Homo sapiens: one gene and its partners. The protein of the gene in region 3 purifies or fractionates together with the protein of the main gene of each other region. This does not show direct contact. Each region holds a gene or a part of one and is shown on either strand. Other genes may lie near its edges.

Region 1 (3,572 bases), on a different chromosome or scaffold from region 3:
CAGAACAGAGCCCTCAGAAATAATGCCGCTTATCTACAACTATCTGATCTTTGACAAACCTGAGAAAAACAAGCAATGAGGAAAGGATTCCCTATTTAATAAATGGTGCTGGGAAAACTGGCTAGCCATATGTAGAAAGCTGAAACTGGATCCCTTCCTTACACCTTATACAAAAATCAATTCAAGATGGATTAAAGACTTAAATGTTAGACCTAAAACCATAAAAACCCTAGAAGAAAACCTAGGCATTACCATTCAGGACACAGGCATGGGCAAGGACTTCATGTCTAAAACACCAAAAGCAATGGCAACAAAAGCCAAAATTGACAAATGGGATCTAATTAAACTAAAGAGCTTCTGCACAGCAAAACAAACTACCATCAGAGTGAACAGGCAACCTACAAAACGGGAGAAAATTTTCACAACCTACTTATCTGACAAAGGGCTAATATCCAGAATCTACAATGAACTCAAACAAATTTACAAGAAAAAAGCAAACAACCCCATCAAAAAGTGGGCAAAGGACATGAACAGACACTTCTCAAAAGAAGACATTTATGCAGCCAAAAAACACATGAAAAAATGCTCACCATCACTGGCCATCAGAGAAATGCAAATCAAAACCACAATGAGATACCATCTCACACCAGTTAGAATGGCAATCATTAAAAAGTCAGGAAACAACAGGTGCTGGAGAGGATGTGGAGAAATAGGAACACTTTTACACTGTTGGTGGGACTGTAAACTAGTTCAACCATTGTGGAAGTCAGTGTGGCGATTCCTCAGGGATCTAGAACTACAAATACCATTTGACCCAGCCATCCCATTACGGGGTATATACCCAAAGGACTATAAATCATGCGGCTATAAAGACACATGCACACGTATGTTTATTGCGGCATTATTCACAATAGCAAAGACTTGGAACCAACCCAAATGTCCAACAATGATAGACTGGATTAAGAAAATGTGGCACATATACACCATGGAATACTATGCAGCCATAAAAAATGATGAGTTCATGTCCTTTGTAGGGACATGGATGAAACTGGAAATCATCATTCTCAGTAAACTATCGCAAGAACAAAAAACCCAACACCGCATATTCTCACTGATAGGTGGGAATTGAACAAGGAGAACACATGGACACAGGAAGGGGAACATCACACTCTGGGGACTGTTGTTGGGTGGGGGGAGGGGGGAGGGATAGCATTGGGAGATATACCTAATGCTAGATGATGAGTTAGTGGGTGCAGCGCACCAGCATGGCACATGTATACATATGTAACTAACCTGCACATTGTGTACATGTACCCTAAAACTTAAAGTATAATAATAATAAAAATAAATAAATAAATAAATAAATAAAACCCACTTACTATTTCTGCAATACTTTGTTTTACTTAAAGGCCAGTAGTATCAAAATAAAAATCAACTTTTATAGTTTTATCACTTACACATCATAGTTGCTATAGGAGTGGCTATAAAATGAATATCCATTGCTAAAATTGGATCTTTCGTTATTGCATAAAAGGAGACATTTCTATTAGTCACAACTACGATATGGTAAAGGCACAGTATGTCTCAGTTACACACAGGCTGAGCCATTCAAAGTATCTGTGAAATTCAATGGAGCATGTAGAACCGTTCCAGCAACCACTTAAAACCTGGCAACTCAAAGTACAGTTTCTGAACCAGTAGCAACACCTGGGAGCTTGACAGAAATGAGAACACATGGACACATGGAGGGGAACATCACACACCGGGGCCTGTCAGGGGGTGGAGGGTAAGGGGAGGGAGAGCATTAGGACACATACCTAATGCATGTGGGGCTTGAAACCTAGATGACAGGTTGATAGGTGCAGCAAACCACCATGGCACATGTATACCTATGTAACAAACCTGCATGTTCACCACATGTATCCCAGAACTTAAAGTAAAATCAAACAAACAAACAAGAGTCAAAAAAAGAAAAAAAGAAGCACGATCTTAGGCCCTGCTGAAGACCTACTGCATATGAAGCTGTAGTTTAACAGGCTCCCGCTATGATTCGTAAGTACATTAAAGATTGAGAAGCAAGACTTAAGACACTAAACTGATCTCAGGAAACAAAAGATTTTTAGAAAGTTTAACTCAAAAAAACAAAACAGTATAAATGAGAGTAAAACTATTACATTACATACTAAACAACTGTAATTGAAGAACTGCTGTACCGTACCTTAAGACCTGAACTCCAAAGATCAAGCACATTTTCCATCTTCTGAAGGTTTTCATCAGAAACAAGAAAATCGCTCACAAGTATTTCATGGGCATCTGTATGACTAGAATTTGTTGCTGGTGAGGAAGAGTCAGCTAAAAGATGTGAACTGAAAAAATCCATGACTGGGTGAGAAGGCTTCCTTGGCGATAACACTGGTGATGACTCTGAATAAAAGAAAAGTTGTAGCTGTCAAGCCAAATTGAAAATAACTCAAGTTGGTAAGGAACCATACTGGAAGGCTAAAAGACGTCTGCTACTTATGGAGGCTGAGAAAAAATGCAGAGAAACTACCTTTCAGGTGTACCTTAATCTATTTTTAATTTCAGTATTGTCAGTGATTTAGCACAGACTGGCATGAGATACCTCCTATACTCCCAATCCCTTCTCTCCCAGCAAATGACCTCTATCCCAGATAAGGATCCTTCATATATCCAGGTCCAGCCTGAGGTGAAACTATCATCATCTGTATCATATCACCATTAATGAAGTGCTTTCTGTTTCTGTAATAAAAACATTATAAAGATTAGTTCTCATAACACATGCTACCCTAAAAAATAGGTATTATTATCTCCATTTTACTGATGAGAAACTGAGGTTCAGAAAAAGTTAAGTAATTGACCAAGGTCAGTGTGGTTGTATATAGGTCAATATTACTCTGTAAGTTTAACACTGGGATTGGTTTTAATACTATTAAAATTCGGCCGGGCGCGGTGGCTCATGCCTGTAATCCTAGCACTTTGGGAGGCCGAGGCGGGTGAATCATGAGGTCCAGAGATTGAGACCATCCTGGCCAACAAGGTGAAACCCCATCTCTACTAAAAATACAAAAATTAGCTGGGTGTGGTGGCACGCACCTATAGTCCCAGCTACTCGGGAAGCTGAGGCAGGAGAATTGCTTGAACCAGGGAGGCAGAGGTTGCAGTGAGCCGAGATCGTGCCACTGCACTCCAGCCTGTGACAGAATGAGACTCTGTCTCCAAAAACAAAAACAAACAAAAAACCTATTAAAATTAAACAATTTAAGTAGAAAGAGACTCATAATTTAGTTTTGCAGATACTCTGTTGTTAAGTACACTGTTAGGCTTCAATGTAGAGGTGAGAAATGTACACATCTCTATATGTATGTGCATATATATAAAACGCTCATCCCCTGCCCATATCCAGGGAGGTGGGGGAGAGTCAGGGCCCTAAAGAGAACAGGTATCTATTTCTAAAAAAGCACTGAAAGGCTGGGCACGGTGGCTCATGCCTGTAATCCCCGCACTTTGGGAGGCTGAAGTGGGCGAATCATGAGGTCAGGAGTTCAAGACCA
Region 2 (3,572 bases), on a different chromosome or scaffold from region 3:
TGCCACGGCACTACAGCCTAGGTGACAGAGCAAGGCCTTGTCTCAAAAAAAGAAAAGAAAAGAAAGAAAAAGAAAGTAGGTCTCTTTGCAGAAAGCCTCAGGCCCTGAACTTTTGTGTCATCTTCTCATTACTCAAGTCTAATTCCCTACATCTCACTTTTACACACAGATCATTTTTTTCATGTTTGTTTTGATTGCCCACCCTGGAATTCTATTTCTGCACTACCCTTTAAAAGTGAAAGATCAAATCTAACGCTCTAATGTGGGAAAGCATTCCCTCTATTTCTACAAGCTTATTTACACAAAAAAATAAGCTTGAGACTGATCAAAAGCTGAATTTCTACCAAATAGGAACTTACTTTTTATGCCGTAAATTATCAAGGCCATCTCAAGGCAGAGGTGAGTTTAGCATCTCATGCTTTATGCTCCTTTCTTCTGCACCTACCAGATTTTTATTACATGTGAAATTATATGAACATAAACCCCAGGGAAACATTGAAGATGAGTGTGCCGTCACAAGTGACGAGGGGACAGATGAACAGGGAAGAGAAATGGGGCAGCAGCACTTTAGAGTGACTTACTTCTCTCTTGTTTTCTCCTCCCTGAATCATTTTCTAGAACCAGTATTGTGGCCCCTAAAATTTGGGGCTTAGGTCAGTCAACTTACCAAAGTTCATCTTCCTGGTGATGAAAGGACTTTCATCAAAATCCCAGCTACTTTTTATTCGTTCCCACATTTTGTGGATTAAGAAACTGAGAACCAGAATTTATAGAGATCACTCAATCAATTGGCATATTCCCGGATCACAACAAATTGATAAAATTCTTGAGAACCCTCTTTCTAATACAGATTGACTATAATTTTGTCTTTCATTTTTAGTTCTCTTATTTTGTCTCATGCACTGTGGATTATCTGGTTTACTGCAGTCCTTACCTGAATAGATGTCAGTGTTTTGATCCCATTGTTGTATTCCCCTAAAACACGTCAAATGAAAAACTGGACACTTTAATAGGTTTATTGTTAGCACTCTCTCATGCTGATCAATTCTCAACACATGCAGTTGTAGGATTAGGAAGACAAAATCCTTTAGAAGAAGCTATGAAACCTAATCCTTCTGCATCTGGATCATTTTAAACTACAAGTTGTAAGAGGAATGAGCATCTCTGGATTCTAGTTATCAGTGCAGACCAGATGGAAGGTCTTTATGAAATCTGGTATGAGAAGGAAAGCATTTTATAGCAAGAAGAAAATATTTTGAGAAATAGCTACCAGCAGCAGCAGCTAGCAGTTCTAAAACTCTCAGATCCTCCTAATGACCCCATTAGGGAGGGAGGAAGGGAGCAAGGAAGGAAGGAATGAAGGAAGGAAAGAAGAAAGGAAGGAAGGAAGGAAGGAAGGGAAGGAGGGAAGGAGGGAAGTGTTATAAATATTGGTCAGGGAAAAGTTTTATTATTAATGACAGATTAAATAATTAGCTACTAGGAAAATTCAAGGGGATACATAAAAATGCCATTAGAAAGAATAAGAGAACCCAGTAAGGTGGCTAGCTACAATAGCTTGCCTGGTTAGCGACAATATAATCATAGGGATTTATATTACGCTTGTACACTGTTGGGCAGAAAACATGCCTGAGAGGTATAAAAGATGCTGTTAGCATCCAAGAAAAATGGGAAAGGAAAGCCCACCTCATCTGAGGAAGATGGAGGAAGAAGAACCTACAGAAAAGGATTCCACATTCCAAACTCATCCCTCTGAATTCAGTAATATTTATCCTTATATGATTTCTGACAGTGTAGTTTGTCATTGTAATTAATTCTTTCCTGTAAGTAAACAAGAATTGTATACTTACTTAAGTACCTTACATTTTAAACTTTATTACATAGTCCTAATTTTAATGTTGAACTCTGCCCTAGTCAAGGAAGTATTTGTTACCTAACACAAGAATTTGATATACAGTCATCCATAAACACTATCCTACCATATAGTTCATCATAATTTAACATTCAAAGAAAGAAGCATGATTTCCTCTTTTATTATGCTTTCATTTGAGCCATTTTAACTTTCTTACCATTCTTTCCTTCTGAACCTAATTCAATTCCTTACACAATGCTCTAAAAAATCAAGGATTAAATATGTAACTTAATTTATAATTAGCAAATACATCATTTACAAGATGCATTCATATTGGCAAGCATATTTTATTTCATAGATTGTAAACTGGTAAAACAATGTAATCTCCTCACCCTCTCTGCAATACAGTAAGCCTGTTTCTAAGACCATCAAGGTTTTACTTTATGTCCGAGGCATTGGAGAACCAGACTGTACTGACCCCAGGGTTTGGTGACTTACATATAAATGAAGCATCTTACCAAGAAGGGATGAAAAATGACTTTAGAGGAAGCAAAAGTCTCAAAGCTCACAAGACTTGATTACTTTCAGCTTGGTGACAGAGGCAATGCTCTTGTGATGCAGATGGAGTAATTTCTCCAGCACAAAAGATGTCCAGCCGGGTCCCATTGGCTTTGAGATAATCTCTCACATTGCATTAAGTGTACTGAGTACCCTTTCTCAGACTTATGTACCATTAGCATGCATTTAATTAACAGTTAATGATTACATAGTATTGTTACTATTACCACATAGTCCTGTTATATTAAAATACATGAAATTTGTAGCTATGTTTTGCCTGTTTAGTAAAATGAGTCTGAATCTAAGGGTGAGAGGGTCTACACACAGCCAAGAGGATGGGGTATTAACCCAGGCCTGTGTGAAGATATTTGCATCTCATGGAATGCTCTCCAGAGAACAAACTGACCTACCCTGTGCATGTCAGCTAAGCTCCCGCCAGCTTCCTCAGGGCTTGCTGAATGTACAGTGAGTGCCACAGTGCCAGCGTGGCAGTGAAGCACAGGCCCAACTCTACGGACCTGGGGTCAGAAGGCCTGGGTTAATACCCCATTCTCTTGGCTGTATGAGCTGCATGGTCTGTCATCGTTACAATGGGGACAATAATACATGCCCTGTCTACCTCAGCCTCCTTTCAGGGAAGTTTCTCAAAACAGAATATGCTATTGTGATTCATTGTCACCTGTGATGTCAAACTGCACCTTGTGTTATACTACTAGGGGGTAACACAGCATGGGGCTCAAGCCCAAGCTCTCGAGTCCAGAAAGCCAGGTTCATATCCCAGCTCTGCCATTCATTAACTGCTTTCACATCTCTAAACCTCAGTTTCCTCATTTGTTGGGGCTCACATAACAGTACTATGTCATAGGGCTATTTATGAGGATTAAATGTGTGTATTCATTATTGCTAAATAATAAATTACCCCAAAACCTAATGGCTTAAAGCAACAGATTTTTATTATCTCTATGATCATAGTTCCATGGGTTGGGAATCTGGGTATGGCTTAGCTAGGTCCTCTGGCTCAGGTCTGTCACTCACAGGCTGCAAAGTTTCAGCCGAGACTGCAGACATCTCAAGGCTCAACTGGGGAAAGGTAACGCTTCCAAGCTCGCTCACGTGGCTGTTGACAAGCCTCAGGTCCCAGCTGGCTGCTGGCTGGAGACGT
Region 3 (3,572 bases):
AATTAAAAGATGGGTAGTTTTGATGACTTAAAATAACTTCTGCTTATCAAAACTTATACTGTAAAGGTTACTGAGGGATGGCTGTCAGGGGAAATGGGGATGGTTAATGGGCATAAAAATAGAATGAATAAGATCCAGTATTTGATGGCACAATAGAGTGACTGTAGTCAATAATAATTTAATTTTACATTTTAAGATAACTGAAAGAGTACAACTGGATTGTTTGTAACGAAGGATAAATACTTGAGGAGATGGATACCCAATTTCTCCTGATGTGATTATTACACATTGTATGCCTGTGTCAAAATATCTCACATACCCCATGAATATATACCTTTACATACCAACAAAAATTAAAAATTAAAAAACAAAAATGCTTAACATAAACAGAATTCAAAGGAAACGGACAACCGGAAAAGAAAATACAATAAAGGCTAGCTAGAAAATATTTGAAACATAGAAATAGTTAATAAAACCCATTGAGAAACCAACATCCCCTTGGAAAAATAAGCAAAAGATAAGAACAGACAATTCACAGAATTATATAAATGGAAAAAATACATACGAAAAAACATTCAATGCCGTAACTGAATAAATGCGACTTAAAACAATGGCACACCTTTGTTCACCTATTAAGCTGTGGACGATAATCCACTAACTTTTGCCAGCTGTGGGGAAAGCCACTCCTTCAGCTGCGGGGAGAAGTATCCATTGGGGGTCTATCCAGAGGGCAACCCAACCACACCAGTCAAATCTTAAAAATGTCTATGTATACTTTGACCTTGTAATTAGAATTATACAATCACTTGAAATACTGAGATCTTTAGAGAGGTGGTTTATTATGTACAGGAGTGTTCTTCACAATGCTATTTATATTACAAAACTTGTGAAACAGTTAAATTTTGACACGTGCACAACATTCCATGTCACTGCCAACAAAAAAAATCATGTACAACAATTTAGGAACATGGTAACATGGCCTTGACTTAGTGTTTGGTTTTTCAAGAATAGTAGTTATCCCTGGTAGTATTATAGATGTACTGCTATTTTCTCTTCTGTATTTTCCATATTTTCTACAGTAAGTTTTATCTTTATAATGATATAATATACATATATAAATATTTATATTTTAAAAAGGAGTGTGAGCTTTATAGAGAATTTATTAAAAAACAACAGCGTCCCCTCCCCACCACCCCTTTCACCCCCCACAGAACTAGGTGTGCCTGGTACCAAGCAGATGGTAGATTCTCTTTAGGCCCCCTTCTCCCCAAGTAACTAATGTCTCCCTGCTGCCCCCAGAAACCCCACAGCATGCAGCGGGGCCTGCCTCGCCCAGAGTTCCTAGCTTAGCCAGGGCAAATGCCCCCAAATTGCCTCCCTTTCTCCACTTTGGACCAAGCTCTCGCTGCCTCAGTTAGGGGTTTGACAAGGAAGCAATCCAAGAAAGCAACCAGCTGCAGAAAAAAGGTGTTTGCATGGTTTTTTAAAGGGATGTTGCTAATCCAAACCTAGAGTCCATGAAGGTCCTAAGGCCTATTTTCAGGTTTTATCTATCTGTCTATATATTTTGAGAAGGAGTCTCGCTCTGTCGCCAGGCTGGAGTACAGTGGCATGATCTCAGCTCACTGCAACCTCTGCCTCCCGCGTTCAAGCGATTCTCCTGTCTCAGCCTCCCAAGTAGCTGGGACTACAGGCATGCGCCACCACACCCAGCTAATTTTTGTATTTTAAGTAGAGACGGAGTTTCATCACGTTGGCCAGGATGGTCTCGATCTCTTGACCTCATGATCCGCTCGCCTTGGCCTCCCAAAGTGCTGGGATTACAGGTGTGAGCCACTAGAAATGTGTAGCACCTCCCCCCATTCTCTCTTGCTCCTGCTCCTGCCATATAAGACGTGCCTGCTCCCTGTTTGCCTTCCGCCATGACTGTGTTTCCCGAGGCCTCCCCAGAAGCCAAGCAGAAGCCACTAGGTTTCCTGTACAGCCCACAAAACCATGAGCCACATAAACTTTTCTTTAAAAATAACCCAGTCTCTGGTATTTCTTCATAGCAATGTGAGAGCTGCCTAATACTTCTATGTATCAAGTTTTTTTCTTTTTTTTTGAGACGGAGTCTCGCTCTGTCGCCCAGGCTGGAGTGCAGTGGCGCGATCTCGGCTCACTGCAAGCTCCGCCTCCCGGGTTCACGCCATTCTCCTGCCTCAGCCTCCTGAGTAGCTGGGACTACAGGCGCCCGCCACCACACCTGGCTAATTTTTTGTATTTTTAGTAGAGACAGGGTTTCACCGTGGTCTCGATCTCCTGACCTCGTGATCCGCCCACGTCGGCCTCCCAAAGTGCTGGGATTACAAGCATGAGTCACCGCGCCCGGCCGATATGTATCAAGTTTTAAGGACACATGGTCCCTGCCCTAAATGAACTTACAGTATTCAACAGATAAGTATGCAAGTAATTACCTAACTTCAAGTTATGGTAAATGTTAGGAAGGAAACTTACAGTGTTAGGAGAACATGTATCATGAAGTTCTACTTAAAGTTGCAATTCTACCCCCTGAAGGAGGCCCTTTCTTTCTTAAAACCAAGAGCACATCAAAATGCTTCTTCCAAACTTCTAATGCAGTCACATTTTGAGGGAGTCAGAGCTGGATAGTGTACAGGGCAGTGGTTTTTTTTTTTCTTCCACTTATTTCAAATAGGAACGCAGGAATGCAAAACTATTCGGAAAATGATGTCATCCTTCTGGAAACTGATACTGCTGCGACTAGTCTCCTTTCCTTTTAATGCTGGGAGGAGAGAAATATTTACGAAGATTTTCATGCAAACAAGCTTTATGTGTGAGTAGAAATTTTGAAAGAAAGTAAATGTCCATCATTAGGGGACTGCTTAGATGAATTGTAAGTATATTCTAAGCTATGGAATACTGTTCTATTATAAAACAGTGAGGTGACACCTATGTACTGGCACGGAAAGCTCTCCAAACATACTAAGTGAGAAAAAGCAAGCCACTATGGTATGACTCGATTTGTTTTAAAAAATAAAATAAGGTGTACACGTTATGCTAATGCAGACAAAGTACAGCAATAAGGCTGCACAAAGTGTCCACCTACCTTCAGCACATAGTGAAAGAGATTTATGAATCCTTTACCATGATGATGTATTTAGCTACTACTTGTACAAGAAAAATATTAACAAAGTAAAACATGTATCCAACAGTAGACTCTCTGGACAGCATGCATCCTTCTGGAGGGGTTAGGAGTCTCTCTTGGCTCTTTGGTTTAGTGTGAGTTGAAGATGTTCTATTATAGGACCTATGCCATGAGACCCTAAATATTGGCCCACTCTGATAGACAACCCTGAAAAGAATCGATCTGCTTTGCCAGCTGGTACATGCTAAAAAGCAGCCTGAAGATATTCCCAAAGACAGGTCTAAATTCAGCCACAACAGAGCAGATAACTTAAGCCACCCAGCCGCTGACTCAGTTGCAGGAAATGAAAGGGGAACTCCAAGCAAACTATATTGGAAGCAGCTGCAGTTATATCTATCCTTTGACTCACTGGGGCTGGCCCAATGCC
Region 4 (3,572 bases), on a different chromosome or scaffold from region 3:
TGATCTAAAGCTCTACCACAAATACTCAAGGTATTTTCCATCTCCAGGATCCTAGTAGGCTATGGGAATTGGCAGCCCCAAAAATAAGGGGAAAAAAGCACTGAATATTTAGATGGAGGAGCAAATAAAGGTGCAATAATCCACAAGAAATAAAGCAAATTTATGAGCATTTTGAACAAAACCCAGTAAACTGAAATTAAATCAGCAATTTATCTAGCTAATCAGAAAACAAAATATTTGGCACTGTTACATGGCAGGCATTTACCTGGGTACAGGGAGAAATATATATATATATATATATTTATATATATATATATATATATAAATATATATATATATATTTTTATATATATATATATATATTTGTTCTGTTTCACTGCTATATATATATAGCATATATACCAACATGGAGTTATATGCTACAGAATTTAGCTGTGGTCTCAGTTGCCTGAATTTTAATATCTTCCCTATTATATGCTTTAAGGGACACTGCCCCAAACTAGCTTTCCCACTTCCTTTACTACTGATACTTAGGACTACTGTTTGATCCTCAGCCTGTCCATTCGGGGTTTTGAATTCTAATTCACTGTATAAGGCTAGTCCTTAATGCTTCTGAGATTGTGGCTCTGATACCACATTTGTTCTGTTTCACTGCTATATATATATATTATATATATATAATTTATATCTATATATATAAATTATATATTATTTATATATAAATATATATTTATATAATATATTACATATATTATATATATAAATAACTTAATTTTTGGTGGTAGGAACACAGATGTTTGTTATATGTTTGCAACTTGTCAAAATAGAAACAAAACAAAACAAAAAAGCAACAGAGGGAAGAGTATTTCAGGCCCAGGAGAAAGTAATTTCCAAGGCCTTAGGACAGGAAAGTTCTCATTATGTTTTAGGAACTGTCAGATGGCCAGCATATAACATGTGGGGCACATTGTGAGCCTGGAGAGGTAGGACGGAAAGGGCTTAAAGTGAATTTGGGTAAGTACAGAGGGGGCACTTCAAGTAGGGCCTTGTCGGTCACAGTGATGACTTTTCATTGTGTTCCAAGTATAATGGGGCCAAAAAACTTAACATTCTGATGATATCTTTATTACCTATTATTTATTAATTTTGTGTGCTGTTTGACTTTTTTGGCATGCAAAATGACTTTAAAGTACTCTCTTATAGGTTCATTCATGTCCACGGTTTCCATATTCCTTTTCCTATGTGATCTTAAAATCCTCAACAATGAATTCCTCTACCACAAGGAGAATTAGGTCAAATCTTCACATTTGGATAAGAATATTGTATTATTCTTATCTCTGCTTGTCATTGTTCATTTTTTCTATGTTTGCTGTGTTGATTAGTGTATGTGTTTTGGCAATTGAGGACTGGTCTCTGATATTCTGATTGGAGAAATAAGTGAATTTGGAGAATGGACCACCTGGGAGGCCAGACTGAGTGAAGGACCTGGGAAGGGCATGTGGTGTGACAGAGGGCACCTGGGGCTGCGGAGTTAAGGATGCAGGGGAATCAATGCCATAACTGCTTTAATAGCAGAAGAAGATTGTCCTTGCCACCCTGTGCTTCTCCTCTTCCTTTCTTGTTTTCCTCTTTCATGAGATGGAAAATACTGTGTCCCTACAATGAGAAAGATGCCTTGAGATGCAGGAGTCCCTTCCTTCTGTGCTCCATTATCTTACCTTAGAGAGCCTGAAGTGGTTTGCTAAGTGCTAGCTTCTCTGTCTGGAGGAAAGAGCTCCTGACAGAAGAGGGACCCAACCTCTTCTGCTGCTTTCTGGACTTAGATCATTTGCCTGGTTTCTCGGGCCGGGACTCATAGCACACTGACAAATGGGAATATGTGCAAAGGGTCTGGAAGCCATCCCAGTTTGTCAACGTTCCCCTTGAAACCCATGGAGTATAATTCTTCAGAGACATTAAGGAATTATTTTTATATGAATCATAAAAACCTTTTACAATTTTCTATATGATAACATATATCTCTTTCTTGCTATCCATCTTTCTATCTTCCTGTCTCTGGGCAATTTGCCTTTAAGAGGTTAAAACCTTGTACAAGATCATTCTAGAACCCTAGTCCCACATGGACGGCTTACCAACATGGAGTTATATGTTACAGAATTTAGCTGTGGTCTCAGTTGTCTGAATTTTAATATCTTCCCTATTATATGCTTTAAGGGATACTGCCCCAAACTAGCTTTTCCCCTTCCCTTACTACTCATATTTAGGACTGCTGTTTGATCCTCAGCCTTTCCATTTGGGGTTTTGAATTCTAATTCACTGTATAAGGCTAGTCCTTAGCGCTTCTGAGATTGTGACTCTGATACTTCAAGACTTCCATCACAGGAAGTTTTCCTGGTGCTACTTTACAAAGAGAGGCATAAGGAGTGGGTTTTTCTTGTGTGTTGGTTAGCCATGACAAGAGCAAGATGCTATCCTATGGATGCTGGAAAGTAGAGATACCTTTTTCTAAGAAATCTGGCAGTGAACAGGAAGCAAGAGATCAGAATGTGGGTTAAAGCACTGGCAGGAAGGTGGGGTTTGTGTTTGTCTACACACAGAGGTGAGAGTTTGGGCAGCCACGTGGACTGAGGAGAAGTTGTCAGTGGTGAAGGACAGAGTAAGATGAGGATTCACAATTAGCACTTTTCCAAAAAATACCCAGCTTTCAAGTCAGTCTGCCTTTAATAATGATGAAGTAGAGCATTCCCAGTCATTTTGCTCATGGCTTTGCTTCACAGGGGCCCTTCCTTTACACCCCAGTTCTCCCAAAAAGTGCCATGGGGAATTCTTGGCTTTTTGTGGACATTACAGAAGTGGAAACTACCTGGAGGCTTGTAAGTGGTACCCCATAGGCAGTTTTGTTATGCCTATCCTGTCTTCTTCCTGCTGTTGGGGCTCGGAATAAGATACCCCAAAGTACGGCACATTGGTGTGCTGAGTACTTTGAACTAGACATGGGAACATAGGAAAGGCCGCTGGCTGCCTGACAAAAAAAAAAAAAAAAAAAAAAACTGTGTGTGCATGCTTTTCAGCTGGCTGTAGGATATCAGCCAGAAACAAGGTCTTTCTGACCCTCTCGCATTTTCCCCTGAAGCAAGTCATGGAAAACAGAATTCCTTTCCCCAAGGTGGGTCTCAGAAACCAGAACCACTCCGCCCCAAAGCAAATCATAAAACCTAAAAAGGTCACTCTCTCCCTTTTCCCTTGAAAACCTTATTTCATGGGAGTCCTGCCCTCTGCCCAGGAGGAAGAAATGCCACACAGTGAGGCCCAAAAAATCTGGACAGGCCTTGCTGGGTTTCTGTTTCAGTTTATTACTATTGACTCATACCCTTTTGTTCAATCACATTTCTACACGCCCATCCTTTCTTCATCAAACCTAAGCATAAAATCAGACATTTTTCCCTGAGTCTTTAGATCTTCATTTTGAAAGCCTCCCATGTCACATCAAACTTTGATTAACTAAATTTGTTATGCTTTTCTCTTGTCACTCTGTCTCCTGTGATAGGAGTGTTAGCTGTGACCCTGATGAG

What was found.
Region 1: the proteins of PANX1 (region 3) and POC5 purify together in Homo sapiens (co-immunoprecipitation; one large-scale study listed by IntAct). This does not show direct contact.
Region 2: the proteins of PANX1 (region 3) and HTR1E purify together in Homo sapiens (co-immunoprecipitation; one large-scale study listed by IntAct). This does not show direct contact.
Region 4: the proteins of PANX1 (region 3) and SLC2A12 purify together in Homo sapiens (co-immunoprecipitation; one large-scale study listed by IntAct). This does not show direct contact.

The regions. Positions count from the first base shown.
Region 1 is NC_000005.10:75,700,387-75,703,958, forward strand, and holds part of POC5 (centrosomal protein POC5), read right to left. Parts: intron 2,425-3,572; coding exon 2,219-2,424; intron 1-2,218. UniProt on the Homo sapiens protein: Essential for the assembly of the distal half of centrioles, required for centriole elongation. Acts as a negative regulator of centriole elongation.
Region 2 is NC_000006.12:86,940,492-86,944,063, forward strand, and holds part of HTR1E (5-hydroxytryptamine receptor 1E), read left to right. Parts: intron 1-3,572. UniProt on the Homo sapiens protein: G-protein coupled receptor for 5-hydroxytryptamine (serotonin). Also functions as a receptor for various alkaloids and psychoactive substances.
Region 3 is NC_000011.10:94,135,300-94,138,871, reverse strand, and holds part of PANX1 (pannexin-1), read right to left. Parts: intron 1-3,572. UniProt on the Homo sapiens protein: Ion channel involved in a variety of physiological functions such as blood pressure regulation, apoptotic cell clearance and oogenesis.
Region 4 is NC_000006.12:134,032,125-134,035,696, forward strand, and holds part of SLC2A12 (solute carrier family 2, facilitated glucose transporter member 12), read right to left. Parts: intron 1-3,572. UniProt on the Homo sapiens protein: Insulin-independent facilitative glucose transporter.